7 linked regions of the Homo sapiens genome follow. The protein of the gene in region 1 purifies or fractionates together with the protein of each later gene. This does not show direct contact. Each region holds a gene or a part of one and is shown in the gene's direction. Other genes may lie near its edges. The genes, in order: DDX19B, AKR1B10, FGG, TF, NDRG2, CAPG and SERPINA3.

The links.
Region 2: the proteins of DDX19B (region 1) and AKR1B10 purify together in Homo sapiens (affinity purification with mass spectrometry; 2 studies listed by BioGRID and IntAct, with this or other methods). This does not show direct contact.
Region 3: the proteins of DDX19B (region 1) and FGG purify together in Homo sapiens (affinity purification with mass spectrometry; 2 studies listed by BioGRID and IntAct, with this or other methods). This does not show direct contact.
Region 4: the proteins of DDX19B (region 1) and TF purify together in Homo sapiens (affinity purification with mass spectrometry; 2 studies listed by BioGRID and IntAct, with this or other methods). This does not show direct contact.
Region 5: the proteins of DDX19B (region 1) and NDRG2 purify together in Homo sapiens (affinity purification with mass spectrometry; 2 studies listed by BioGRID and IntAct, with this or other methods). This does not show direct contact.
Region 6: the proteins of DDX19B (region 1) and CAPG purify together in Homo sapiens (affinity purification with mass spectrometry; 2 studies listed by BioGRID and IntAct, with this or other methods). This does not show direct contact.
Region 7: the proteins of DDX19B (region 1) and SERPINA3 purify together in Homo sapiens (affinity purification with mass spectrometry; 2 studies listed by BioGRID and IntAct, with this or other methods). This does not show direct contact.

Annotation. Positions count from the first base shown.
Region 1 is NC_000016.10:70,305,241-70,309,341, forward strand, and holds part of DDX19B (ATP-dependent RNA helicase DDX19B), read left to right. Parts: intron 1-4,101. UniProt on the Homo sapiens protein: ATP-dependent RNA helicase involved in mRNA export from the nucleus.
Region 2 is NC_000007.14:134,525,975-134,530,699, forward strand, and holds the start of AKR1B10 (aldo-keto reductase family 1 member B10), read left to right. Parts: upstream 1-1,592; 5' UTR 1,593-1,937; coding exon 1,938-2,003; intron 2,004-4,668; coding exon 4,669-4,725. UniProt on the Homo sapiens protein: Catalyzes the NADPH-dependent reduction of a wide variety of carbonyl-containing compounds to their corresponding alcohols. Displays strong enzymatic activity toward all-trans-retinal, 9-cis-retinal, and 13-cis-retinal.
Region 3 is NC_000004.12:154,603,354-154,606,947, reverse strand, and holds the end of FGG (fibrinogen gamma chain isoform gamma-B precursor), read left to right. Parts: coding exon 1-243; intron 244-1,881; coding exon 1,882-2,114; 3' UTR 2,115-2,593; coding exon of another isoform or gene 2,594-2,608; 3' UTR 2,609-2,777; downstream 2,778-3,594. UniProt on the Homo sapiens protein: Together with fibrinogen alpha (FGA) and fibrinogen beta (FGB), polymerizes to form an insoluble fibrin matrix. Has a major function in hemostasis as one of the primary components of blood clots.
Region 4 is NC_000003.12:133,749,234-133,753,334, forward strand, and holds part of TF (serotransferrin isoform 1 precursor), read left to right. Parts: intron 1-4,101. UniProt on the Homo sapiens protein: Transferrins are iron binding transport proteins which can bind two Fe(3+) ions in association with the binding of an anion, usually bicarbonate.
Region 5 is NC_000014.9:21,021,836-21,026,606, reverse strand, and holds the start of NDRG2 (protein NDRG2), read left to right. Parts: upstream 1-1,545; 5' UTR 1,546-2,577; exon of another isoform or gene 2,578-2,631; intron 2,632-3,099; exon of another isoform or gene 3,100-3,285; coding exon of another isoform or gene 3,286-3,291; coding exon 3,292-3,366; intron 3,367-3,701; coding exon 3,702-3,743; intron 3,744-4,109; coding exon 4,110-4,215; intron 4,216-4,424; coding exon 4,425-4,545; intron 4,546-4,727; coding exon 4,728-4,771. UniProt on the Homo sapiens protein: Contributes to the regulation of the Wnt signaling pathway. Down-regulates CTNNB1-mediated transcriptional activation of target genes, such as CCND1, and may thereby act as tumor suppressor. May be involved in dendritic cell and neuron differentiation.
Region 6 is NC_000002.12:85,399,954-85,404,054, reverse strand, and holds part of CAPG (macrophage-capping protein), read left to right. Parts: intron 1-1,896; 5' UTR 1,897-1,909; coding exon 1,910-1,932; intron 1,933-2,097; coding exon 2,098-2,270; intron 2,271-2,371; coding exon 2,372-2,526; intron 2,527-2,725; coding exon 2,726-2,890; intron 2,891-4,101. UniProt on the Homo sapiens protein: Calcium-sensitive protein which reversibly blocks the barbed ends of actin filaments but does not sever preformed actin filaments. May play an important role in macrophage function.
Region 7 is NC_000014.9:94,618,891-94,622,390, forward strand, and holds part of SERPINA3 (alpha-1-antichymotrypsin precursor), read left to right. Parts: intron 1-304; coding exon 305-578; intron 579-3,450; coding exon 3,451-3,500. UniProt on the Homo sapiens protein: Although its physiological function is unclear, it can inhibit neutrophil cathepsin G and mast cell chymase, both of which can convert angiotensin-1 to the active angiotensin-2.

The DNA of each region.
Region 1 (4,101 bases):
ATGGTGGAGGTCTGACTCAGTGTTCTGGAATCTAGGTGGAGGAAAGGGTGAGGGAGGTCTCAGGACCCAGAATACCTGCTTCCACTTAATGCTTCTGTTTTCATTATGGCATCCCCTCCCTTAACTGTGGTCCTTATCCATTTGAGCATTTCTCATGCCTAACCTGGCAGGCATTGTTAACTGAGTAAATGAACTGTGTAGTTTGTTATTTGTTGCAAAGAAACTTTTGATCATTCACTCTCAATATGTAAATATCTATTTAGAAATTGCATACTTTACTGTTTTATTAAATATATTATGTACATTGTAAAGCAAATAAAAAAGTAATAAAGGCTGAGATAAAAATGAAATAATGCTTTCCTGTGCTTGTGTGTGCTGGCTTCATATTTTTATTAGCCAATATCTCAAGGCACAATATACACTTAGAAAAAAAACACATCATTAGTCAACGTAGAGATAAATATGTGTTTCAAGTAGTTCTGAGAGGTTTTTTGTTTTTTTAATTATTATTTTTTAAATTTTTATGTATTTATTTTTTGAGACAGAGTCTCACTCTGTCGCCCAGGCTGGAGTGCAGTGGCGCAATCTCGGCTCACTGCAAGCTCCACCTCCTGGGTTCACGCCATTCTCCTGCCTCAGCTTCCCGAGTAGCTGGGACTACAGGCGCCCACCACCATGCCCAGCTAATTTTTTTGTATTTTTTTGGTAGAGATGAGGTTTCACCGTGTTAGCCAGGATGGTCTCGATCTTCTGACCTCGTGATCCGCCCGCCTCGGCCTCCCAAAGTGCTGGGATTACAGGCATGACCCACAGCACCCGGCCTGTTTTTTTTATTTTTTAGTTCTGAGAGTTTTGACTATTTTAACTAACTTCTTGTTAGGTCAGTTTTGTTGTTGTTGTTGTTGTTGTTTGTTGTTGTTGTTGTTTTTGAAATAGAGTCTTACTTTGTCACCCAGGCTGGAATGCAGTGGTGTGTACATGGCTCACTGCACCCTTGACCTCCCAGGCTCATGCAGTCCTCCCACCTCAGCCTTGCAAGTAGCTGGGACTACAGGTGTGCACCACCACACCTGGCAAATTTTTGTATGTTTTGTAGACATAGGGTTTCACCATGTTGCTCAGGGCAGTCTCAAGTTCCTGAGCTCAAGCTATCACCTGCCTTGGCCTTCCAAAGTGCTGGGATTATAGGCATGAGCCACTGCACCCGGCCATTCAGGTCAGGTTAAATTGTCATTGTTTTAACCTATTAATGTGCCTAAGAGGGTTTGTTAGGAGTAGGTAGCTTTGACATTTTCTTTTTGGCTTGAGTTTGCATCATAGAGTTATCTTTTGGATAGAACAGAAACTCATAATAATGAATCCAGTGATAATAAAAACTCAGGTATGAAATGATTAACTCTTGCTGTTTTTAGCAGGCCCAAACTAGCCATTTTATTAACCTTACAACAACAAATTCCTGCATTTTATGAAACAGAATCTTGAGACCCTATTATTATGACATTATGGTGAGATTAAAGTGTACAGTTCACTGATGGTTGGTGTATTCAGAAGTGTGTAGCTTATATCACAGTCAATTTTAGAACATTTTCATCACCCCAAAAGGAAACTCTGTACACATTAGCAGTTACTCCCTGTTTCCCTACAAACTCCCCAGCTCTAGGCAATCACTAATCTACTTTCTGTCTCTTTAGATTTGCCTCTTTTAAACATTTCATATAAATGGGAACATACGGTATGTGATCCTTTGTGACTGGCTCCTTTTATTTAGTATAATGAACTAAGGTTCATTAGTTGTAGCATGTATCAGTACTTTATTCCTTATTGTTGCCAAATAATATTCCATTGTGTGGATATACCACATTTTATTTATCCACTTATCAATTTCTGGACATTTGGATTATTTCTACTTTTTAGCTACTATGAATAATACTGCTTTTGATTAATGTACAAGTTTTTGTGTGGACATATAGTTTCAATACTCGGGTATATATCTAGAAGTGGGACTGCTGGATTATATAGTAATTCTGTATTTAACTTTTGAGAAAGTGCCAGGATGTTTTCCAAAGCAGCTGCATCATTAATCTTTAAGATTAATATTGTCTATGAAATAATATGTCTTTTTTTATTTTTTATTTTTTGGAGACAAGAGTCTCGCACTGTCTCCCAGGCTGGAGTGCAGTGGCACCATCTCGGCTCACTGCAACCTCTGCCTCCCGGGTTTAAGCGATTCTCATGCCTCAGCTTCCTAAGTAGGTGGGATTACAAGCACGTGCCACCATGCCCAGCCAATTTTTCATATTTCAGTAGAGATGGGGTTTCATCATGTTGCCCACAGTGCTCTCGAACTCCTGAGCTCAGGCAATCCATCCATCTCGGCCTCCCAAAGTACTAGGATTACAGGCGTGAGCCATCACATCTGGCCATATGTATATATATGTGTGTGTGTGTGTGTGTATGTATATATGTGTGTGTGTGTATATATGTGTGTATTTTTTTTAATAGAGATGGGGTCTCATTCTGTCACCCAGGCTGGAATGCAGTGGCAAGATCATAGCACACTGTAACCTGGAACTCCTGGGCTCAAGCAATCCTCCCACCTCAGCCTCCCTGGTAGCTGGGACTATGGGCACATACCACCATGCCCAGCTAATATATTTATTTATTTTATTTTAAAATTTATTTAAATTTATTATTTATTTATGTATTTATTTTTATTTATTTATTTATTTTGAGACGGAGTCTCACTCTGCTGCCAAGGCTGGAGTGCAGTGGCACCATGTCGGCTCACTGCAACCTCTGTCTCCTGGGTTCAAGTAATTCTCCTGCCTCAGCCTCCTGAGTAGCTGGGATTACAGGCACCCACCACCATGCCCAGCTAGTTTTTATATTTTTAGTAGAGACAGGTTTTCACCATGTTGGCCAGTCTGGTCTCGAACTCCTGACCTCAGGTGATCCACCTGCCTCGGCCTCCCAAAGTGCTGGGATTACAGGCGTGAGCCACCACACCCGGTCTATTTATTTATTTATTTTTAAGACAGAGTCTCACTCTGTTGCCCAAGCTGGAGTGCAATGGTGTGATCTTGGCTCACTGCAACCTCCAACTCCCAGGTTCAAGTGATTCTCCTGCCTCAGCCTCCTGCGCCACCACACCTGGCTAATTTTTTTTATATTTTTTTAGTAGAGACAGGGTTTTACCATGTTGGTCAGGCTGGTCTCGAACTCCTGACCTCAGGTGATCAGCCTGCCTCAGCCTCCCAAAGCTCTGGGATTACAGGAATGAGCCACCATGCCCAGCCTATTTATTTATTTTTTAGGAGATGGGGTCTCACTATGTTACCCAGGCTTGTCTCGAACTCCATGAGTTCCAAGGATCCTCCCTCCTCGGCCTCCAAAAGTGCTGGGATTCAAGTCACAAGCCACCATGCCCTGTCAATATTTTTATTTTTAATCTTTATAGAGGTGGAGTCTCACTATGTTGCCCAGGCTTGTCTCAAACTCCTGGCCTCAAGGGAGCCTCCCATTTCAGCCTCCCAAAGTGCTGGGATTACAGGTGTGAGCCACTGTGCCCAGCTGTTTTTTTTTTTTTAAAGTTCTAGGGTGCATGTGCAGGATGTGCATGTTTGTTACATAGGTAAACATGTACCATGGTGGTTTGCTGCACCTATCAACCCATCACCTAAGTATTAAGCCCCACATGTATTAGCTCTTTTTCCTAATGCTGTCCCCCACTGCCCTCCCCCATTAGTGTATTCTTTATCCTTCAGAATTAGTGAAGGATTTTTACTGCTTTATAATGATTTCTTTTTTTTTTTGTTTGTTTTTCAGTCGGCTTTCTCCAGTTGAATGGTTTCCTTTTTGTTAAGTTGCTTTTTTCTAATCTCTTTAATGTGTTCCCTTTCTTTTTCCTCTTTCCCAACACCAAAGCAGAAAGGGACCAGAAACTTCTTGTCCATTTCCATGAATAGAAATGGGAGGCTGGGCGCGGTGGCTTATGCCTGTAATCCCAGCACTTCGGGAGGCCGAGGCGGGCAGATCACGAGGTCAGGAGATCGAGACCATCCTGGCTAACACGGTGAAACCCCGTCTCTACTAAAAATATAA
Region 2 (4,725 bases), on another chromosome or scaffold:
CTGTGGCATGCATATTCCCATTGCAGTGCTCTATTCCCAGAGAAATATTTTTCTTGTAGGGACCCTCTCTCTGTTATTTAGGTTGACAGTCACTAAGGATTTACTATTTCAACAATACTAGCACTGCATGTCATCCAGTATACACTGGGAAAATAAAGTGCCGCAAGTGCATATCCAGGAGACTTTGTGGCCACCAGATTATGAGGAATGCATGTATTTAATTATTTATTTTTGGGACAGAGTCTGTCTCTGTCGCCCAGGCTATAGTGCAGTGGCACCATCTTGGCTCACTGCATTCTCCACCTCCCAGGTTCAAGGGATTCTCAGGCCTCCCAAGCAGCGGGGACTATAGGTACGTGCCATCATGCCTCGCTAATTTTTGGATTTTTAGCAGAGACAGGGTTTCACCATGTTGGCCAGGCTGGTCTCAAACCCCTAAGCTCAAGTGATCTACCTGCCTCGGCCTCCCAAAGTGCTGGGATTACAGGTGTGAGACACCATGCCCGGCCCATGCATTATTATTAATGTTGAAGTAGATAATTTAACAAACATCAATGAAGTATAAGATTTTTCACTCATAGTTGCAAAATATCATGCCAATTGCCTTCTATGAGCTGTCATAAGCCACAGCCTAGAGATTCAATTCCATTTCAAGATTCAACCAAAGCCAACTCATCAACAAGAACATGTAAAAGACAGAAAAACCCACTACCGGCAGGCTGAAACAGATGCTGTGACGTGGCCCTGGCCTGTCATGGCGTGTCACAGCATGGCACAGGCCTATATCATGTTCCCTAGATTGCTGACTACCAACTAGTTACAGCTGACTCCAATCAGGTCGGGATTTGACCATCTCTGCACTGAACCTGCAATTGCAACTTTTAAAATTGAAACGCTGCTTCTCACCTCTCCTCCCTAGACTCTATTTCACAGAGGAAACCATCACAGGGAAAGCAAGCCCTTGTTTTTTCTTCCTTCTTTGCTTTGCTTTCTTTCTCTCCTTCCTTCTTTCTTTCCTTCCTCCCTCCCTCCCTCCCTCCCTCCTTCCTTCCTTCCTTCCTTCCTTCCTTCTTTCCTTTCTTCCTTCCTGCCTTCCCTTCTTTCTTTCTTTTTTTTGAGACAGGGTCTCACTGTCTGTCGCCCAGGCTGGAGTGCAGTGGCATGATCTAGGCTCATTGCAACCTCCGCCTCCCAGGTTCAAGTGATTCTCCTTTCTCAGCCTCCCAAGTAGCTGGGATTGCAGATACGTGCCCCCACGCCCGGCTAATTTTTGTATTTTTAGTAGAGGCAGGGTTTCACTATGTTGGCCAGACTTCTTTCCCTCCCTCCTCCAACTCTTCTTTTCTTCCTTGCTGTCTCCCTCCCTACCTTCCAACTTTTGGCTGTGTTGAATTTGTTGACTCATCCTGAACAAGCAGAAACTCCAATGATACTGTCACCTAAGAGAGAACTTTGCACAAGGTTGCCATGTTTAATAATTCATTCACAGAATCCTCAATCTCACAAAAGCCTGGAATGGATTTCCTGTTTGGTTATGGCAGGGAAGCTACTGTGGCCAGGCTCCAACTCCTCCCACTGTAGATAGCAGCAGCCTTCTTAAGCAGCCTGTGGCCGGGCACAGTAGCTCACACCTGTAATCCCAGCACTTTGGAAGGCCGAGGTGGGCGGATCACCTGAGCTCAGGAGTTTGAGACCAGCCTGTCTCTACTAACAATATAAAAATTAGCTGGGAGTCACGGTGGGCGCCTGTAATCCCAGCTACTCGGGAGGCTGAGGCAGGAGAATTGCTTGAACCCAGGAGACAGAGGTTGTAGTGAGCTGAGATCGCACCACTGCACTCTAGCCTTGGCAACAGTGCAAGACTGTCTCAAAAACAGCAACAGAGAGCAGGACGTGAGACTTCTACCTGCTCACTCAGAATCATTTCTGCACCAACCATGGCCACGTTTGTGGAGCTCAGTACCAAAGCCAAGATGCCCATTGTGGGCCTGGGCACTTGGAAGGTAAATATGCAAATCTTTGCACACCCTTCTTCTCTGGAGGGGCGTTTGGGTGTTTTCTCTTTCTGCATTCAGCCAGGAAAGCCTGGAGGTCGGGCAGGGGTTGGAGAGGTAAGATTCAGCCCTGGAGCCAGGACTTAGGTTGCTTTCTTTTCTCAGAGCTGATTCAGGCTGCAAAGCTCCAAGGCTGGCTTTCCCAGCAGTGATGAGAGCTTCTCTAGCAAGTATCAAATTTCAAGCAGCTGTTGGACTTAAAACTGTTTTCCAGGGCAGTTTCTCTCTCTGGTTCTAGGACACTTAATTGGGCTCAACGTTTCCCCCAAGTCTTGGCTGTGGGTTTGTTGTGGGCTGGGTGGTTGAGGAGAGGATGCAGAGCCCGAAGTCCTTGGCACCCCTTTGCAGATCACGGTGTGAGACTTGGGCTAGCAGCATCCCTATGACCTGGAAACTTGCTAGAAATGCAAACTGGCCAGGTGTGGTGGCTTATCCCTGTAATCCCAGCACTTTGGGAAATCCAGACGGGAGGGTTGCTTGAGCCCAGGAGTTGGAGACCAGCCTGGGCAACATGGCAAGAATCCATTTCTACAAAAAATAAATAAATTTTCTGGGCATGGTGGCACGCACCTGTAGTCCCAGCCACTTGGGAGGCTGAGGTGGAGATTGAGTGTTGAGCCTGAGGGGTCAAGGCTGCAATGAGCAGTGATTGTGCCACTGCACTCCAGTCTGGGCAACAGAGTGAGATCCAAGAAAGCAAGAAAGAGAGAAAGAGAGAGAGAGAAAGAAAGAGAGACAGAGAGAAACAAAATGCAGAGTCTCAGGCTCCAACCCAGGCTACCTAATGGGCATCTGCACTTTAACAAGATCCCTACGTGGTTCCTGTACACATTGAAATCTGCAACATGCTGGGGCTGCAGAGAGCCTGGGCTGGGAGTCGTGAGCACCACCCGGCTGTGTTAACGACAGCTGGCAAAATGTGGTAAGGCACATCCAGGACTCAGTGAGGCAGGTTCCCGAGCCTCTGTTAGGCTAAGTTTCAAGTTGTTCCATCACCACCTCCCTCTGCCTTCTTTGCCATTTCCATCCATGATAGCACTACCCTAACTAGTGATGAGAAGCAGTCTTTGGAGTTCCTCTTCTCTCCTGTCCCTCATGGCTAATGTCCCTGCTGAGACTTCTGCCTCTGGCTCTCTTTCCTTCTGTGCACCCTGATTTTTCTTCTCTTCTGTCCCAAGCTAGAGGTTAGGACCCTCTGCTGCAGCACTGGGTCATCCTCAGGATACATTCTTGGTGTATCTGGAGGAACAGATCACTTCCAGCTTGATTCATGCAGAGCGTCTCTTGCTTGAATAGCAAGATTTGCCCAAAATCAGACCTTCAATCCTGTATAAACAGAATAAATAATCACTTCCAGATCTCCAGGGAATCTACTCACCCTGGGTGAGTTTACCAGACAGTTTCATAATTTTGGAATTGAATGAAAGAATTATGAAGGGAGCTGTCTTCAACACGTGGGGATGATAGACTAAAGGATTATGAACTTAGCAGTGGAGGTGAAGAAGGGTGTAGCGTAGCGGTTGGGGGCACAGGGCTGCTTCTGGGTGCCTGGCAGCAGCTCGTTTCTTGTCCAGGTGGTAGGGTAGCTGTGCATCTCTGTTTTGTGTACTGTTCAATGTTTGTTATCTCACAATTGAAGAGGTTTAAAAGACCATTTTGTGAGAGATCAAGTTTTAAGTGCTTTTTTGCCCCCATCATTGGCTTGGCTAGGTTAGAACAAAATGTGATAATTCTATTTCCCTTCTTTTCTTTTTTTCTTTCTTTTCTTTTCTTTCCTTCCCTTCTTTCTCTCCCTCTCTGTCATTCCCCTCCCTCTCTCTTTCTTTTTACAGGAGTGGAAAACAAACTCTATTCCTATAAGGTTTTCTATTTCTCTTTTTTTTCTGAAACGATCATTGTATAATGATGGCCTCTACTGAACCTTACTGTGTGTCAGGTAATGTGCAAAAAGCTTAATATTCATTGCAGCATCTCATCACCACAAAGGCCTCATGAGGCTGGTGCTATTTTTTTTTCCATTTTGCATACAAGGTTTACAGAGATTGAATCACCTGCTTAGACCCACACACCCAGTAAGTGATCGAATCCAGATTGATGGTGTAATGACCATTATCCAGATCCTTATCACCATTTGGGGAAATTGTCTGAAAATCCCTTGGGGTTATTTAGAGTCAAGCTTTCATCTGGGTCTTCAGAAAGTTGTAGTGGAGCGGTCTGCACCCCCACACACCTGAAGACATTTCAGGACTAACCTGGATGAAAAGGGAACTGACTTTTAGCTAGGATAGGACATAAGGACATAATCATAAAATAATTCACTTTCCTTCTTTTCTTTTGAAAAGTTTTGTAAAGTGTGTATCCTCCCAGAGATCCCCTGGCAAAGGAGACCCCAGTGAGGCCTTGGTTTGGAGAAACTGGGCCTTGTGGGGCAGCCTGTTGAAGGTGGCCTGGGGATAAGAGAATATGATGGTTGCTGAGAGTGGTGTAATTCCAGCTACTCGGGAGGTGGGAGGGTTGCTTGAACCTGGGAGTGTGAGGCCAGCCTGGGCAACACGGCAGGGCCCCATCTCTTAAAAAAAACACATATGTGATGAGCTTTTCTTTTGCCTTTCAGTCTCCTCTTGGCAAAGTGAAAGAAGCAGTGAAGGTGGCCATTGATGCAGGATATCGG
Region 3 (3,594 bases), on another chromosome or scaffold:
AAGCTGACAAGTACCGCCTAACATATGCCTACTTCGCTGGTGGGGATGCTGGAGATGCCTTTGATGGCTTTGATTTTGGCGATGATCCTAGTGACAAGTTTTTCACATCCCATAATGGCATGCAGTTCAGTACCTGGGACAATGACAATGATAAGTTTGAAGGCAACTGTGCTGAACAGGATGGATCTGGTTGGTGGATGAACAAGTGTCACGCTGGCCATCTCAATGGAGTTTATTACCAAGGTATGTTTTCCTTTCTTAGATTCCAAGTTAATGTATAGTGTATACTATTTTCATAAAAAATAATAAATAGATATGAAGAAATGAAGAATAATTTATAAAGATAGTAGGGATTTTATCATGTTCTTTATTTCAACTAAGTTCTTTGAAACTGGAAGTGGATAATACCAAGTTCATGCCTAAAATTAGCCCTTCTAAAGAAATCCACCTGCTGCAAAATATCCAGTAGTTTGGCATTATATGTGAAACTATCACCATCATAGCTGGCACTGTGGGTTGTGGGATCTCCTTTAGACATACAACATAAATGATCTGGATGGATTAACATTACTACATGGATGCTTGTTGACACATTAACCTGGCTTCCCATGAGCTTTGTGTCAGATACACGCAGTGAACAGGTGTTTGGAGGAACAGAATAAAGAGAAGGCAAGCACTGGTAAGGGCAGGGGTTTGTGAAAGCTTGAGAGAAGAGACCAGTCTGAGGACAGTAGACACTTATTTTAGGATGGGGGTTGGATGAGGAGGCTATAGTTTGCTATAAGCTTGGAATGGTTTGGAACACTGGTTTCACTCACCTACCCAGCAGTTATGTGTGGGGAAGCCTTACCGATGCTAAAGGATCCATGTTACAATAATGGCATTATTTGGAAATCCCAGTGGTATTCCATGAATAAAACCACTATGAAGATAATCCCACTCAACAGACTCTCCGTTGGAGAAGGACAGCAACACCACCCTGGGAAAGCCAAACAGTCAGACCAGACCTGTTTAGCATCAGTAGGACTTCCCTACCATATCTGCTGGGTAGATGAGTGAAACCAGTGTTCCAAACCACTCCGGGCTTGTAGCAAACCATAGTCTCCTCATCTACCAAGATGAGCAACCTTACCTCCTGATGTCCTAGCCAATCACCAACTAGGAAACTTTGCACAGTTTATTTAAAGTAACAGTTTGATTTTCACAATATTTTTAAATTGGAGAAACATAACTTATCTTTGCACTCACAAACCACATAATGAGAAGAAACTCTAAGGGAAAATGCTTGATCTGTGTGACCCGGGGCGCCATGCCAGAGCTGTAGTTCATGCCAGTGTTGTGCTCTGACAAGCCTTTTACAGAATTACATGAGATCTGCTTCCCTAGGACAAGGAGAAGGCAAATCAACAGAGGCTGCACTTTAAAATGGAGACATAAAATAACATGCCAGAACCATTTCCTAAAGCTCCTCAATCAACCAACAAAATTGTGCTTTCAAATAACCTGAGTTGACCTCATCAGGAATTTTGTGGCTCCTTCTCTTCTAACCTGCCTGAAGAAAGATGGTCCACAGCAGCTGAGTCCGGGATGGATAAGCTTAGGGACAGAGGCCAATTAGGGAACTTTGGGTTTCTAGCCCTACTAGTAGTGAATAAATTTAAAGTGTGGATGTGACTATGAGTCACAGCACAGATGTTGTTTAATAATATGTTTATTTTATAAATTGATATTTTAGGAATCTTTGGAGATATTTTCAGTTAGCAGATAATACTATAAATTTTATGTAACTGGCAATGCACTTCGTAATAGACAGCTCTTCATAGACTTGCAGAGGTAAAAAGATTCCAGAATAATGATATGTACATCTACGACTTGTTTTAGGTGGCACTTACTCAAAAGCATCTACTCCTAATGGTTATGATAATGGCATTATTTGGGCCACTTGGAAAACCCGGTGGTATTCCATGAAGAAAACCACTATGAAGATAATCCCATTCAACAGACTCACAATTGGAGAAGGACAGCAACACCACCTGGGGGGAGCCAAACAGGTCAGACCAGAGCACCCTGCGGAAACAGAATATGACTCACTTTACCCTGAGGATGATTTGTAGAAAATTAACTGCTAACTTCTATTGACCCACAAAGTTTCAGAAATTCTCTGAAAGTTTCTTCCTTTTTTCTCTTACTATATTTATTGATTTCAAGTCTTCTATTAAGGACATTTAGCCTTCAATGGAAATTAAAACTCATTTAGGACTGTATTTCCAAATTACTGATATCAGAGTTATTTAAAAATTGTTTATTTGAGGAGATAACATTTCAACTTTGTTCCTAAATATATAATAATAAAATGATTGACTTTATTTGCATTTTTATGACCACTTGTCATTTATTTTGTCTTCGTAAATTATTTTCATTATATCAAATATTTTAGTATGTACTTAATAAAATAGGAGAACATTTTAGAGTTTCAAATTCCCAGGTATTTTCCTTGTTTATTACCCCTAAATCATTCCTATTTAATTCTTCTTTTTAAATGGAGAAAATTATGTCTTTTTAATATGGTTTTTGTTTTGTTATATATTCACAGGCTGGAGACGTTTAAAAGACCGTTTCAAAAGAGATTTACTTTTTTAAAGGACTTTATCTGAACAGAGAGATATAATATTTTTCCTATTGGACAATGGACTTGCAAAGCTTCACTTCATTTTAAGAGCAAAAGACCCCATGTTGAAAACTCCATAACAGTTTTATGCTGATGATAATTTATCTACATGCATTTCAATAAACCTTTTGTTTCCTAAGACTAGATACATGGTACCTTTATTGACCATTAAAAACCACCACTTTTTGCCAATTTACCAATTACAATTGGGCAACCATCAGTAGTAATTGAGTCCTCATTTTATGCTAAATGTTATGCCTAACTCTTTGGGAGTTACAAAGGAAATAGCAATTATGGCTTTTGCCCTCTAGGAGATACAGGACAAATACAGGAAAATACAGCAACCCAAACTGACAATACTCTATACAAGAACATAATCACTAAGCAGGAGTCACAGCCACACAACCAAGATGCATAGTATCCAAAGTGCAGCTGGAGACAGGAAAGCTGCTTGGGGAGTCTCCCAGCAGAACCTTTTAGCTCCAAACACCTGTGGTGGGACCTGGTCACTCTGAAAGGACTGCAACTCAGAGCAGAGAGCTTTAGGGAGCTATTTGCCCTATCTCTCACTAGTCATGAGGTGAGCTGAATGGAACCATCTCTTCCTTCTGATTCAGGGATATTGACTTTTTAGCAGCCTGAGTTCAGGTTCATTCGCCAACTTTCTAAGGAATAGCTAAATCTACATAACTTAGCAAAAGGCTGACTGTGGGAAGTAATTGGCTAATTTTATGAGGTGGGTCTGGTTGTTCCGAAGTCCTGAGCTTTGGCTTTGCACTCTCTTTCTTTTCACACTTCTTTCTTTCTTCTTGCCTTTCCTTTTTTTTTTTGGATATAGGGTCTCACTCTGTCACCCAGTCTGTAATGCAGTGGCACAACAGTAGCTCACTGCAGCCAGCCTTGAACTCCTGGGCTCAAGTGATCCT
Region 4 (4,101 bases), on another chromosome or scaffold:
AACTGGGAAGATGAGTGATGCATGCAGGGGGAAGAGTAAAGTGTCCTGATTGCAGGTGACAGCTGATCTTTTTGTTCTTAGGTCTACAAAAATGCTCTTCATTCTTTCAACGTTGCCCCTGCCCATCTGTACATGTCAGATCCTGTGCTGGGCAATGGGGCTGCAGTGGTGAATTAAACACATTGGTCCTTACCCTCAGGGAGCTCATGGGCTAGTCAGGAGAGCAGAAAAACACACGAATAAGTAAACTACTAATTCCAAAATGTGGGGATGTACAATGGAGGGAAAAAGGAGAGTGTTCTGACAGGGACTCACAGAAAAACCTGCTTTGTCCTGGGTGGTCAGAGACCATCTCTCTGAGAGAGATGTAATGAAGGACTGAGCCTGGGTGGGCTCCAGTGTAAAATACACCAGGCAGCAAACAAGAGCATATGCAAAGGGCCTGAGGCAGAGCAGAGTGGGCTTATTTAAGTTGCTAGTGGGAGGCCAGGGTGATGGGAGCTGTCAAAGATAAGCACAGCCAGATATTAGTTTAGGCAGTGACAATAGGTTTCATTCAGTAACTGCTGACAGTGGGGGAAAGAGCTAGGCTCCATTCTGATTTGTGCAGTGGTGATGTGAGCATTTTAAAGGGAGAATGAGGGAGGGGAGAACGCAGGGCTCTGTAGAGTCAGAGAAGTAAAAAGGTAGAAAGGGCTGGTCAGTGTAAATGTGAGGAGGCCAGCTGTGTCTGATAGCTGGCAGTTCTCTCGATTAGGACTCTATTCTCCCGCAGAGACTGCGAGACAGACACTCTATCCATCCTGATGATTGTGTTGCAAAGGAATGGCTCTCAGTCCTTGAGAGAGATGCTTGTGAGTTTCAAGAGATACATATTCACAGTTTTAAGTCCTTTTTAGTAAATTCTCTTGGAAAGGGAGGTCAGGGGCCTATCATCAGTTGTGTGTTGAGTAGAAGAAACAGGTACATTTTCCTGGCAGCACTGAGTTTTCTCAGGCAAGCACTTTAAGGGGAACCGGGCCATCCTAGGGACACAGATTTGTTCTGCTAGGAGCCATGCCAGAGTCTGGTCAGGTCTCTTAGTGCAGAGGTTTGGACAGATGTGTCAAGTGTGGGAAATTCTACAGTTCTCAGCACAAAGCAAGCAGTAGGTTAGCCGAAGGGAAAAGGTGGAAGAAACATCCAGATGCAGCCTGGCTTCCCTCAATCCCCGCGCTGGGGTTTTCCGTGTCTTTCTGCTGGCTTCCCCTTGGCTTCCCTCCAGCCTTCTCTCTGTAGCTTTCCCTCTTCTGGGTTTGGTTATTTTGACTTGTGAGAGCTTGCTTGATTATAATCCTGTCCCTCCCAGCTGGCGCAGGTTCCCCTGGGAACCCTGCAGCTCTAGGGCTGGACGCTGTGTTTTAGGCCTTAGCTCTTTGGCTCCCTGAGCCCCCGAGGCACCAGTGATTTCTTGGTGTCTTGGCAAAGAAAGACCAGGTTCCTGACCACTCTCCCAACCCCACTGCAATGGGCAAAGCTCTCGTTTGTTTGCTTCATTTTTTAAAAAATATATATATATTTTATTATACTTTAAGTTCTAGGGTACAAGTGCACAACATGCAGGTTTGTTACATATGTACACATGTGCCATGTTGGTGTGCTGCACCCTGTTTGCTTCATTTTTATTCAACAATGTGAGGACTGGGGAAGGGAAGGTGTTTGCAGATTAAACAAAACCACGAAGTGTGTTTCATATATAAGGTCTAGTTGTTGTGGAACAGAAAGGCCCATGATGTCTGTTAATTTTGTTTTGTATTGTGGTATATTAAAAATATGTTTTACAACCCAAATATCCATTGATGAGTGAATAGATAAATAAAATGTGGTAAACACAAATGATGAAATATTTTTAGCCTTAAAAATAAATGAAACTCTGATATATGCTACACTGAGATGAACCTTGAAAACATAAGTGAAGCAAGCTAGATACAAAAGGACAAATATTGTAAGATTCCACTTTTTTTTTTTTTTTTTTTTTGAGACGGAGTTTCGCTCTGTCGCCCAGGCTGGAGTGCAGTGGCGCGATCTCGACTCACTGCAAGCTCCGCCTCCCGGGTTCACGCCATTCTCCTGCCTCAGCCTCCCGTGTAGCTGGGACTACAGGCGCGCGCCACCATGCCCGGCTAATTTTTGTATTTTTAGTAGAGACGGGGTTTCACCGTGTTAGCCAGTATGGTCTCGATCTCCTGACCTCGTGATCCGCCCGTCTCGGCCTCCCAAAGTTCCACTTTTATGAAGTATCTAGAATAGTCAAATTTATAGAAACAGAAAGTAGCATAATGACTACCAGGGGCTGGAGTGGGGGAGAAATAGGAGGTAATTGTTTAATGTGTAAAGAGTTTCAGTTTCTGGAGATGGATAGATGTGATGGCTATAAAACAACGTGAATGCATGTACTTAATGCCACTAAAATGTACACTTGAAAATGGTTAAAATTGGCTGGGTGCGGTGGCTCACGCCTGTAATCCCAGCACTTTGGGAGGCCGAGGCGGGTGGATCACCTGAGGTCAGGAGTTTGAGACCAGCCTGGCCAACATGGTGAAACCCCATCTCTACTAAAAAAAATACAAAAATTAGCCGGGTGTGATGGCAGGCGCCTTAATCCCAGCTACTTGGGAGGCAGAGGCAGGAGAATCGTTTGAACCCTGGAGGCAGAGGTTACAGTGAGCCGAGATTGAGCCATTGCACTCAAGCCTGAGGGACAAGAGCGAGACTGCTGATATAGTTTGTCTTACAACATATTTTATTTCATTTAGAAATACTATTGTCTTATTACTTGATTGTAACACAACAAAGTTCATGGAACTATAGCTTTTGCTTTGTAATTTTTTTTTTTTTTTTTGAGAGTCTTGCTCTGTCACCTAGGCTAGAGTGCAGTGGTACAATCTCGGCTCACTGCAACCTCTGCATCCCAGGTTCAAGCGATTCTCCTGCCTCAGCTTCCCAAGTGGCTGGTATTACAGGCATGTGCCACCAAGCCCAGCTAATTTTTGTTTGTTTGTTTTGGTAGAGACAGTGTTTCACCATATTGGCTAGGCTGGTCTCGAACTCCTAACCTCAGGTGATCCACTTGCCTAGGCTTCCCAAAGTGCTGGAAGTACAAGGTATGAGCCACTATACCTGGCCTGCTTTGTAATTTGATCAATAAGAAATCTTCATAGAGAACTGGCAAGGGCTTCTGGAAAAATCATTTTGATTAAAGACATTTAAAACAAAAAAGGAGTAAAACTATGTGTTTAAGTGTCTAAATAAAAGATGGTTGGGCTCACTTTAAGGATTTACATAAAAAGAAAATAAATTATAGATCTAGTAAGAAGGCAGCTATAATATTTCAAGGGACCTGTTGATGTAAAGATGAGGGCTTACAGAAGCACAAAGTCAAAAAGGAACATAACCTGAAGTAACAGTGTAATGATAAGAAATAAACCCGGAATGTCTGCACTGAAATCCCAGCTCCATGACTTACTGGCTATGTGGCCCAGGGAAGTGACTTAACCTTTCTGTGCCTCATATTTCTCACTTGTAAAATGGAGCTGAGAGAGAAAGAGAGATGAGCTGCCCATGTGTTGGAGTAGACAATTATACCAGAGATGAGCAAAAATGGAAATAATAATCAAGCTTTTGATCATTCAGTACATAGTATCACCAAGAAGCTAAACCCAGAGAAAGTGCCCAATCCCTCAGCAAAAGGGTCATGCAGTTTTATGGACCCAGGACAGGAAGGAAGAGCATTGAGTACTGAGTCAGAGTGAAGACGAATGTTTTCAAGGTTCCCATCTTCCCCCAGAAAAAAAATCTCCACAGAAGCACCTGAGGAAGACCTCAAAGGAAGTCTCAAAATAAAGAGGGCTCTGAGCAAAGGTCATGGGCTAGGAATGAAAACAGGTGTAAGAAGAGCGTGGCCAGCCCAAGAGAGCTGTGTCCTTGACAGCAGAGTCCCCTCCAGAGACTGCATTGCACTGGCTGTGCTCTGAGTCTGGGGTGGCGAGGGCGGCTTTCTCCCACGGAGCCTGCCAGGTTAAGCCTTCGTAATTGCCTACGGTAAAGTCACGTAGGATTTTT
Region 5 (4,771 bases), on another chromosome or scaffold:
CCTCTCCTTCTTTCCAGTAGACCCTGCCAAGTGGGGATGAAAGGGGCATTGATGTTCCTTGGATGGGAGGGGTATTGCGGGTGGTGAGGGTGGTGGTGGGAGGGTGGTTCCCAGGCAGGAGGGGGCAGGGAAACTTGGGGGTCTTGGGGGGGCAGTCGGTGCTGGTGTTGCAGTTGGCAGCTCAAGTTCCATTGGCCATTGTTCCTGACTGGCCTGGCGCCCAGCCCCCGAAATGGCAACTCAGGAACCAGTCTGAAGGGGGTTGGGGTGGATATGATCCTGGGATTGGGGGAGCTACAAGGGGGGCAGGTGGGGAGAAATTCAGTCAGGTTTCCTTTTGCCTAAACAACTTCGAATTCCCTTAAGCCACATTTTTAATCAACTAACTCATTCCAGGGAGCCTTCCTCCGAGGGGCACAAGGAGAGCTCATTCCAGGGTGTGTGTGTGTGTGTGCGTGTGCGTGTGTGTGTAAAGTCTACAGTGGCAAACCCACTCGGGCACCGAGAGGGACGCGGCAGACCCTGAGACCATCCCCCGGGCATTGCGATTCAGCGGGCCTGAGCTGGTCTCCTATTCTGGGCCGGACTGGGAGGGGTTAGCGGCGAAGCCACAGGGTCTCTTGGGTCCCAGCCCAGGACACTGCGTCCTCCCCAAGCCCCTACTCCACCCCCGCAGGGTTAACTCCGCCCCTGCGCCTGTTTACCCAGGAGTCAGAGCCTCTGGGGGTCCCCGGCCCCTCCCCCGCGCCCCTTGAGGCATTGACCCCAGAGTCCCTGTTGGCCATCCTCTCCCCACCCCCCGCCTGCCCGCGATCGCCCTCTATTTATAGCGGCCCCCCGCATTCCCCGCCCCCACCTCCCCGCCTTGTTGTCCAACTTCTCCCGGAGCAGCCGGAGAGCAGGCGTCGGGACGCAGCAAAGAGAGGAGAGGTACCAGGACTCTGGGCACGAGGGAGTCGGAACTCCTGCGCCCTCGACGTTCCCCCGTGCCCCCTTTCGGCGCCAGCACACCTGCCCCTGCCAGCCGGCGAGACCCCCGCCTCCTCAGCGGCGGTCCCGCCCACCTCCTCCTTTCTTAATCTAGTTCTCTGTGTTCGGGCGGGGGGAGTCGAACTCGTGGGGTGTCAGTATCCCGGGTTCGTCTCCCCACTACCGGTTCCCACCACTGAGTCTGGGGGCGAAGGAAGGAGCCAGAGTGCAATTGCAGATCCAGGTCGTGGATGGGGCGGTGCTGAGGGCAGCCGAGGGATCCCTCTCAGGGCTGAGGGATCCCCGCACTCCCCACACCGCCCCAATGCGGGGAGGGGGTGGTGGAATGTTTTGGTGAGCCGAGCAGAGCCTGGAAGCGTCCAGCCGCCCGCCCCTCGCCCCCCGGCCCCAGCACAACCCTTTCCTGAGCGGCAGTCTGGGCGGGGTGAAAGGGGGGGCGTGTTTACTGGGGGTCTGGGGCGGGTCTGCGGGGAGCCTAGCGCCCGTGGGCGGGCTGGGGCGGGCCGGGGGCGGGTCTGCGGGAAGCCCGAGCCGGGGCGGGCCCGAGTCAAAGGCAAGTGAAGGTGGAAGCGGCCGCGGCGGCAGCAGGTAGGGGGAGGGGCAGGCGAGGGGCCGTAGGGCCTGGAAGGCGCCAGCCGGGCCGGCGGGCGGTGTGATTGATCCGCGTCCCCTGGAGCTGGAGGCTCGGGGGAAAGGGCCAGCACGGAGCGGGCGCTCGGTTGCTGCGCACAAAGGCTGAGGCTCCAAGAGCTGCAGGGCGTGTTTGGGGTGCGCGCGAGGTTGTGTGCAAGGTCCGGGGCGCTTGGCACCGGCCACGCAAGGGTGTCAGTCTCCACGCGGACGGGCTGCGTAGGGACTCGTAGGGACGGGTTCCGGGTGCTGGGCCCGGCCGGTCTCCTCTGTCCTACCCATCCCTTCCCGATGGCGCTTGCCTTCGCGGGCCGTCGGGGGAGAACGGGAGAAGATTGTGGGACCGCTCTCCTCTCCCTTTCTCCACTCGTGGGACCTACACGGAGACTGAGTAGAGGAGAGAAGCGACGGCACCAATCTTTGTGTTTGTTTTTAAATTGTGGAGGGAAACAGCCATGCTCTGCTACCCTCCTCTTACTGGAGAGCTGTCAAAAATTTTGGGGATCCCCTATTCCCCCGCGTTTAGTCCCCCTGCAGATAGAAAATTGAGGCCAAATGTAGTAACTAACTGGGGCAAGGTCACACTGGGAGTGGCAGAGCCGGGATTCGAATCCGGAGGTTCTGACAGGGCCACCCTCTTACCTCCACATCAGCACTTCCTTCTCTCCTCCGCGCAGCCTGAACTGATGCCCTTGTAGCCTATATTGATTCCGGCTCGAGCCTAGAGAGGACGTGTTCTCTGGACTTAGGGGTAGACAGACACTGGGGAGGGTTAGTGACCCGAGGAGGTTGATGACCCTGGGAGTCTGGGTCTTGGCTGAGGCTTTCCGTCCCTGAAAGACCCCAGGTCTGTCTCCCATGTCATTCACCTCGTTGCTGTGTTTTCTCAGACCCCAGAGTCAGAAGGAGTGAGAACCCTGACCCCTAATCCCACTGCATCCAGCCAATAGGAGCCCAGTAAGTGACCCCACCCCGCAGGCTGCAGGCTCCTTCCTGTGCAGGTCTGTCCAGGTGCTCTGCTCCTCACCCACTAATGTTGAACTTGCGGAGTTTATTCAGAGTTGGGAGGAAGGGTCTTGGGAGGAAGGGAGGCATTGGGTTGGTTGGACAGATGTCCCTTTTATGTTGTTTTCCCCACCTCCCCCATTGGTCATGTTGCTTTGGTCATTTTTAGCCCCCTTTGAGCTGCCGACTTTGGGGCTTTAATTGAAGGTCATGGTCAATTGTGAACTCTCACAGTCCCGTCTTTTGGTACCCTGTCCTTTAGAATACTCAGTCACTGAGCTACAAGTTTCACTCCCTACCTGAGAGTGTGGGGTGGCCCCTAAATATAGCCCGAGAAATCTGAGCTACACTTCTGCCCCACCCTGGTATTTTGGTCCAGGGCAGAGGAGGGAGGGGTCTGGAGGTGTGGTGTTGAGGGTGGCAGTGGGGATGGTGAGTATCAAGAGAAGGGCTGTCCTGATTCCTCTTCCAAAGCTTCCACCGATCAGCCTGGAAACGGAGCTGGGGGCAGGAAAGGCCCTCTGTGTGTTCTAGAGTAGTCTTCAACCCCTGGGTCCCTCTGTTCCCTGCATCTTCCTGTGCTGAGAGAGGAAGCCTGGTGTTTGAGGCGATGTGGGGATGTAGAGACAACTTCCCAGTCTCATTTCCTCATCCTGCCAGGCCACCATGGCGGAGCTGCAGGAGGTGCAGATCACAGAGGAGAAGCCACTGTTGCCAGGACAGACGCCTGAGGCGGCCAAGGTTATTAGAGACCGTTTGACTCCCATGCCCAAATTCCAGACCTCTAAGCATCCCCCTTGCCTTCTAACTTCCCAAGCGTACTGATCTTATTCTAACTCACACCACTGCTTCACCACTACCCTAGTCTCTCTCCCCATACACTATAATTGGGAGTCAGGCCCTTGTCTCGTCACTACACTAACCTTCATCCTTTCCGTGTCTCTCTTTGTCAATCTCTTTCTGTCTTTGGTCATTTGTTGGTCTGTCTTTACTTGCCTCTCTTTGTCTGTTTGTCTCTCCATCTGGGACGCCACATGGTCATGTGTTTCTGTGTGAATCCGTGTGTGTCTCTCCAGGAGGCTGAGTTAGCTGCCCGAATCCTCCTGGACCAGGGACAGGTAACAGTGTGGGGGCAGTCCCAAGGTGGGAGGAGGGGCTGTCCTCTTCCCCAGTAGAAGGATGGCCTCTGCTTGGCCCTCTCTTCTCTCTTTGCTTTCTTTCCTTCTATTCTAGTCCTTTCCCTTCCCTATCTCTCCCCTCTCCTTCCTTCCCCTCCTCTTCTCTCTCTAATCTTCATTATTCTTTCTTATCCTCAAACTCATCTTCCGGTATCATGTTTTCCTCAATTCTTGCTGATCCTGTTTTTAATTCTTTGTTCCCTTTTCCCTCTTGCCCACCCACTCCCAGCTCCCTGACCTTGGTGTTGCTCCTTTTCTGGCCTCGTCTCCTCTGAGCCTAGCTCTTGGTGCCCTGTTTTCCTGCAGACTCACTCTGTGGAGACACCATACGGCTCTGTCACTTTCACTGTCTATGGCACCCCCAAACCCAAACGCCCAGCGATCCTTACCTACCACGATGTGGGACTCAACTGTAAGGACCTTCATTCATCTCCCACTCCTGTCTGGGAAGAGGCTGTGGGGGAAGGGTAGAAATGAAACCCAGAGGGAGGGGAGGGGTCAGTGTGGGAAGGAGAAGTTCTCTCCTGGTCTGACTGTGGCATGAAAGGAAGGGTGAGTTCTGACTGGGGGACACGAGTCCCTGTCTGATTCTATTGTTGAGGTGATGTGGGTTCTCTTTAGATAAATCTTGCTTCCAGCCACTGTTTCAGTTCGAGGACATGCAGGAAATCATTCAGAACTTTGTGCGGGTTCATGTGGATGCCCCTGGAATGGAAGAGGGAGCCCCTGTGTTCCCTTTGGGGTAAGAGTTAGGTCGTTACTGCTTCACCAGACTGTGAGGAACAGGACAGGTGCGGGAAAGGTTCGACTGGGGAGGAGGAAAGGGAGGGCAGTGGTTATTCTGGGAGAGAATGAGTAGGACATCCTGAGGTGGGGGGTGTGAGGGCAGGTTGGTATCTTCCTTAACATGCCTCTCTTTTCCAGATATCAGTACCCATCTCTGGACCAGCTTGCAGACATGATCCCTT
Region 6 (4,101 bases), on another chromosome or scaffold:
AAATATACACTGCATTATTATTAGCTATCATCACCCTGATTTTCAGATATTAAACCAACCTTGCATTCCTGGGATAAACCTCATTTGGTCATCATGGTTTATTTTTTATATATTATTTGATTTCATTTGCTAAAATTTTGTTAATTTTTTTTTTTTTTTTTTTTTTTTGAGATGGAGTCTCACTCTGTCACCCAGGCTGGAGTACAATGGCATGGGCTTAGCTCACTGCAGCCTCTGCCTCTTGGGTTCAAGCAATTTTCCCGCCTCAGCCTCCTGAGTAGCTGGGACTATAGGCACGTGCCACCACACCCAGCAAATTTTTGTATTTTTAGTAGAGATAGGGTTTCACCATGTTGGCCAGGCTGGTCTCGAACTCCTGACCTCATGATCCACCCACCTTGGCCTCCCAAAGTGCTGGGATTACAGGCGTGAGCCACCGTGTCCAGCCAAATTGTGTTAATTTTTGTATGTGTATGTTCATGAGAGATACTGATCTGTAATTTTCTTTTTGCATAATATATTTATCTGGTTTTGTTATCAGGAGAATGTTGGCAGCATAGGATGAATTGAGAAGTGTTCTGTCATCTCTTTTTTTGAAGATTTTGTGTACAATTGGTATTATGTCCTTTTTAAATTTTTGGTAGAAATTACCAGGGAAGCCATCTGGGCTTGGGTTTTTTGGCGGGGGAACGAGTTTTTTACTACAAATTTATTTTCTTTAATAGATATGGCCACTGTTCAGATAATCTGTGTCTTCTTGAATGAGCTTTCATAATTTGTGTCTTTGAAGGAATTTGCCCATTTTATATAAGTGGTTGAATATATTGGCATAAAGTTTTTATAATATTCCCTTTATCCTTTTAATATCTGTAAAATCTATGGTGATCTCACATCTCTCATTTCTGTATTGATATTTGTGTTTTCTCTTTCTGTTAATCAGTTTGTCTAAAGATTTATCAATTTTATCGGTTTAAAAAAACAACTTGCCAGGCACGGTGGCTCACGCCTGTAATACCAACACTTTGGGAGGCTGAGGCGCGTGAATCACCTGAGGTCAGGAGTTTAAGACCAGCCTGGCCAACATGGTGAAACCCTGTCTCTACTAAAAATACAAAAATTAGCCAGGCGTGGTGGTGTGGGCCTGTAATCCCAGCTACTTGGGAAGCTGAGGCACAAGAATCACTTGAACTCATGAGGCAGAGGTCGCAGTGAGCTGAGATCACGCCACTGCACTCCAGCCTGAGTGACAGAGTGAGACTCTGTCTCCAAAAAAAAAAAAGCCAACTTGAGGCCAGGCATGGTGGCTCATGCCTATACTCTCGGCACTTTGGGAGGCTGAGATGGGCAAATCACTTGAGGTTAGGAGTTCAACACCAGCCTGGGCAACATGGCAAAACCCCATCTCTACTAAAAATACAAAAATTAGCCAGGTGTGATGGTGTTGCCTGTAATCCCAGCTGCTTGGGTGGCTGAGACCGGAGGATTACTTGAACCCGGGAGGCGGAGGTTGCAGTGAGGCGAGATCGCACCACTGCACTCCAGCCTGGGCAACAGAGTGAGACTCAGTCTCAAAAAAAAAATTCATTGCTCTTCTCTCTTGTTTCTGTTTTCTGTTAATTTCTGCTTTTATTTTAATTTCTGTGAGATCTCAGCAGACGGAAGACCCTGGCCCAGGGGTCAGAGACCTTATTTCCATGAACCACTCACTAGCTGTGTGGCCTTGGACTCATTTCTGAGACTCATTTTCTTTGTCTGCATAATGGAACTAGGGCTCCTAGAGGTGGAGTAGTTGATGAATATGAAAGTACTTGGCCACTGGAAAGGGCCTCTCCAGCCCCACGTGAGAGGTCCTTTTTGTGGCATTTGTAATAATAATGGCTTCTTCTTTCTTTCCAGATCTGAAGACAGCATGTACACAGCCATTCCCCAGAGGTAAGCTGCATGCCCCATCTCCTTTCACAACTTCCCCTTCTTTACCTCCAAGGGCTGCCCCTCCCCACTGCTCTCCTCATCCCCAGACTGCAGTCGCCAGGCCTGCCCAGGGCTGTGCTTGGGCAAGTGGGTCCAGGCTGCTGTCAACCCTCTCTCTTCTCGCAGTGGCTCTCCATTCCCAGGCTCAGTGCAGGATCCAGGCCTGCATGTGTGGCGGGTGGAGAAGCTGAAGCCGGTGCCTGTGGCGCAAGAGAACCAGGGCGTCTTCTTCTCGGGGGACTCCTACCTAGTGCTGCACAATGGCCCAGAAGAGGTTTCCCATCTGCACCTGTGGATAGGTAAGGGGATCTGGATGGGGGAAGGTTGGGCCCAGGAAGGGGAGGGAGGGGGCTGGTATGGATCACAAGGGCCTTGCCCTGCCCTCTCCCACTTGTCCCAGGCCAGCAGTCATCCCGGGATGAGCAGGGGGCCTGTGCCGTGCTGGCTGTGCACCTCAACACGCTGCTGGGAGAGCGGCCTGTGCAGCACCGCGAGGTGCAGGGCAATGAGTCTGACCTCTTCATGAGCTACTTCCCACGGGGCCTCAAGTACCAGGTCAGAGCCCACCTCTAGGCACCCCCACCCTGCAGCTTCCCTCAGAGCCAGCCCTGCTTCTGGCTGGTTCTCACCCTGCAGAAGACCCGGGTGCCTTTGGAGCCGGGTCCCCACCTTTCTGCCCGTCTTCCAGTGGGATGGGGTGCAGAGGGCTCTGGGTCTCCTGTCAGTCCACTCAGATGGGCCGTCTGGGCTGCAGGAAGGTGGTGTGGAGTCAGCATTTCACAAGACCTCCACAGGAGCCCCAGCTGCCATCAAGAAACTCTACCAGGTGAAGGGGAAGAAGAACATCCGTGCCACCGAGCGGGCACTGAACTGGGACAGCTTCAACACTGGGGACTGCTTCATCCTGGACCTGGGCCAGGTGGGTAGGCTGGCCAGACTGAGCACTCCGTATTGGCACCATCCTTTATAAGGACGGAGGGGCAGGAGGCCAGGAAAGAGGGAGAGAAGCTGAGAAGCCGTAAACCCATTCCAAGTGAGATCACTCTGACCATTGGAGAATGTCCCTATATTTGTAAGGACTGATGCCAGCCTCCTTCTGCCATCTAGACATTGCCTCTGATGCTCTGGAGCTTTTTCCCTCCTCTTGGAAGCCTCTGAGTTCACTGCCTGCCAGACCATTCATTAATTCAGTCATTTATCTCTTCGTTCAGTGAATCTATGATGCTCTCTCTGAGCCAGCACAGGGACCATAAAAGCTCGCTCTGGGGAGGCAGCCAAGATGGGCCAGTCACTTGCCATAACCTGAGGCAGGATGTGATGAGGGCTTTAAGGGGGACAGCTGCCATGTGCTGGGGGGGTCTTGGGGCAGGGAGGGGCCCTCTAGCCTGAGCCGAAGCCAGTTGTCCCAGGAAGGTGACATTGGACTAGACCTATAGGAGGGGAGATGCCACTCCAGGCAAAGGGAGAAGGTGAGCTGAGCCACCAAGGTGGGGAAGGGTGCAGACATGCACACACCAGGGGTCTAGTGAGACTGGGACCCGGGCTGGGGGACAGGAGCAGGGGGAGGGAAATTCCTAAGCAAGGTGGAAGGTGAGCCCTAGGTCATGAGGAGATTGGCTGGCTGAGGAGTATGGGCTGCGTCTTGTGGCGCTGAAGATTTGGGGCAGGGAGATCAATCCAGGAGCTCTTGGTGAGGACTACACGTGCTGAGACAAGGAAGGGGACAGGTGAACAGACCTCGCCATTACCAGAAAAGGAGAGGTGACAGGGGCTCTGCCTGGCAGGGCGGTGGGTAGAAGTGTGAGATGCTGCGCTCAAGGAGCCATTCAGCCATTCACCCATCCAGTCCTTCACTCAGTCAGTCAATATTTATTTTGCGCCTAAATCCATGCCGGGCTCTGTTTTAGCAGTGGGCCCACAGTGGTGAGCAAAGCCAAACAAAACCTTCATGTCCTAATGAAGCTCACTTTCTAGTAGGTGGAGATAGGTGGTTAAGAGACGTTTAAACATAGGAGATATGTGATGGGAAGAAAAATAAAGAGGTGCTGGGCGTGGCTGCTCACGCCTGTAATCCCAGCACTTTGGGAGGCCGAGGTGGGCAGATCACCTGAGGTCGGGAGTTCGAGACCA
Region 7 (3,500 bases), on another chromosome or scaffold:
TCATGCCTCTTTCCCCCACTTTCCCTAAACCTTCTTTCTCTCTTGCACTCCTTATTCCCTGGTTCCTATTGATTTCTCATTTAGCACAAGGAACTAGGTCTTTCTTTTGTGGCCCTTTTCCCAATCCAAGCCTGCTGGGCTCTCCCTCACCCCCAATAACTTTTACTCTTGCCAAGCTACTTCTCTAAACCAAAGCAGGGTCCCTCCTATGAGGGACTCTGGGCACTTCCACTGCTGCGGAAGCAGGGTCGAGCAGGGCGACCCTTGCACTCACACCTTCTCCAACTGCTTGCTCCACCTTCAGCCAAATGGGAGATGCCCTTTGACCCCCAAGATACTCATCAGTCAAGGTTCTACTTGAGCAAGAAAAAGTGGGTAATGGTGCCCATGATGAGTTTGCATCACCTGACTATACCTTACTTCCGGGACGAGGAGCTGTCCTGCACCGTGGTGGAGCTGAAGTACACAGGCAATGCCAGCGCACTCTTCATCCTCCCTGATCAAGACAAGATGGAGGAAGTGGAAGCCATGCTGCTCCCAGAGACCCTGAAGCGGTGGAGAGACTCTCTGGAGTTCAGGTGATTCTTCCTGGCCCCCAAAGACCCCACATCTCTCCACGTCAAGGTCTCACCAATGTCCAGGGACAAGGGCATGGTGGTGGGAGAACTCATACAGGGACAGGTGGAATTTACACTTACTTTGCCCTATGCTGCCTACATGGCTTTGGGCTTGATTTTTCTTTTTCTTCTTTAAGACAATGACATCAGACAGGACAAGGGGCTGAGGCTTCCTCTGACTCCAGCATGTTCTAAGTCATGAGAAATCTTCTGCACAGTCCCAAACACTCATGCATGGTTTCTCCTGGTCTCAATCTCTTGAAGGGAGAGAGAAACAGAAGGAATTGTGATCAGTTGAGGGCTGCAGTGAGATGGACTCTGAGAATCAGTTCTGCACTGGTGAACCACTGTATTTATTCATTCTCTCAGCATTTGCTGCATGATTAATTGAGCACCTACTATGTGTCAGACACTAATTTGCACCCTGAGAGTAAATCAGCAAATAAAACACAAGATTCCCTGCCCTCCTGGAGCTTAATTTGTAATTGGAGAGGGGACAGGCAATAAATAAATATAACAAATAAGTTACGTGATATATTAGAAGGTGAGAAATTGAGTAAGGGGATAGAAATTGAGTAGAGGAGGATGAAAGGATCAGGAAAACTGGAACTCGTGTTAGTTTGTGATTTTAGATAGAGTAGCCATTAGGTGATGTTTGAGCATCCATATAACAGAGGGGAGGGGTGGAGTCATGTTGGTATATTAGGGAAAAGCATTCCTGGCAGAGGGAACAGTCAGTGCAAGGCCTCTGAGGTGGAAGTGAGCTTGATGTGGTCAAAGAAGAGTCAGGCCAGAGCAGCTGGGCTTCCACTTCCTCCATCTTGTCTTGATCAGGGAGGATGAAGAGTGCGCTGGCATTGCCTGTGTACTTCAGCTCCACCACGGTGCAGGAGCAGAGAGAGTGAGGAGAGAGTTGAGAGAGGTCAGGAGTCCCCAAAGGGGTGGAGCAGCTTAGGTAGGGCCACGTAGACCCCTAGAAAACCTTGCCCTTCCTCCTGTGTGTGAAATGGAGAGCCATCAGGAGGTTTGGAGGAGTGCTGCGATCCGAGTGTTGTTTTAAAAGACTAATCCTGGCTGCTGAGAGGAGAATAACTGTAGAGCAGGTATGGAGTCAGTGACACCCGCAGGAACCAGGCACAGACATGAGGTGGGAGCCCACTGTGGCTGGGATCCAGGAGGGAGCCATGCATGTGAGAAGTCATTGAGTTCTGGATAAATCTGAGGGTAGAGGAACTTGCTGGGACACACGGAATTGAGCTGACCGATTTCATGGGGACACAGTGAGGAGGAGCAGTAGTTCCGGGCCCAGACCCTGCAGTGGGCCCAGGGAGTGCATGTGGGCAGCTGTGTGGGGTAGAGAGGAAGGAGCACCAGCCTTGGGTTCAGACCGTGGTGGCTGGTGTGACCTGGAGCAGGTCGCTGCTCTTCTCTGGAGCTCAGCTACCTCCTGAAGAGAAAGGAATGTCCTTTCCCCACCACCCCTGTTTTCACTGGGTGATTGTGAGAATCCGGTGAGGTATTGTATGTTGAAGCCATAATAAACCACTAAGGGCAAGGGAGCTGCTTCAACACTAACCTGAGGCTGCAACCCCTGCCCCAACCACTGTCCAGAAGGCCGGACACCTCTCGGGATTGCCTGACCCTCAGCCCCTCCTCACTCTAGATCCCAGGAGACCCCAGAACGTGGGGGTCCTACCCAACCCATCCGTTTACTCCCAGACTCCTTCCTCCTTTAGCACCTAATAGCCACCAGGGAGCAGGGGCTCAGCAGATAATTTTGAGTGGAAAGAATTCTCCAAACACTTTTGATTTACAAAATGCTGAGGAAACATGTGTCCACACACTCCTGGCCCACAGAGAATGCTCAATAGATACTTGTTGAATGAAGGATGGAATGAACGGACAAACACATGAATGAATGAATAAAAATAGAAATAGGACACCTTCCTCCTTCAGGGGACTCAGAGTTTAATGGAAGACACAGCCTCCTGTATAATTGTAAGACCAGGCAGACAGTGACAGGCATCTTAAGAGGGCTATAAACTAAGGGAGGGGGAGTTTGCAGGTGGCAGGTGTGACCTGGGCCTCTAGGAGCTTGCTACCTGCTCTATGCCAGCCCACACCTGGCTTGAGGGACAGTGCCCACTGGTGAGGCAAGATGGGAACCTCCAATTGATTGTTTCAGGATCCCCAAAGCTCTTCTAACACAATCAGACTCTTCAGAGGCCCCCAGGCCCTTTTTGACCTGCCTCTGGCTCCTGGCCCACCTCATCCCTCACTACCCTCCTCCCTGAAACACTGAGATCACCCACCGCCCCGTGGAGCAACTCCTCCTGCTCCCACCTTCTTCCAGGTTCTTCCACCTGCCTCCTGCCCACCTCTTCACCTAGCTAGCTCCTTTCCTGCCTTTGGGACTCAGCCTCAACACCACCTCCTACAGGAAGCCCTCCTGGTGCCCCCGTGAAGCAGGCTGCCATGCAGCCACTGCAGCTGGCCCAGCCCAGGCTCTCAACACACTCAGGGGTCCCTGCTGGTGTGAAGGTGCTTCAACTGCATTGCAAGCTGCAGGGAAAGGGCAGGGCCAGGCTCGAGCAGGGCCACAACTCCAGGCTTGGTGTGCTGCCTGGAGACTTTCACACTTGCAGATCTGAATGAATAATTAATGAATAAGAAGAGTAAAGACAGGGGTTAAGAAATTGAGGAACAGATTATTTATTTTCCAATCAGAAGGGGGTGACTGTAGAGGAAACCAGGGAAGACCATGCTGCGAGGTGGGAGGCAGGTAGGTACTGATCAGCAGAGGTTCAGATACTTTTTTTTTCTCGTTTTCTAGAGAGATAGGTGAGCTCTACCTGCCAAAGTTTTCCATCTCGAGGGACTATA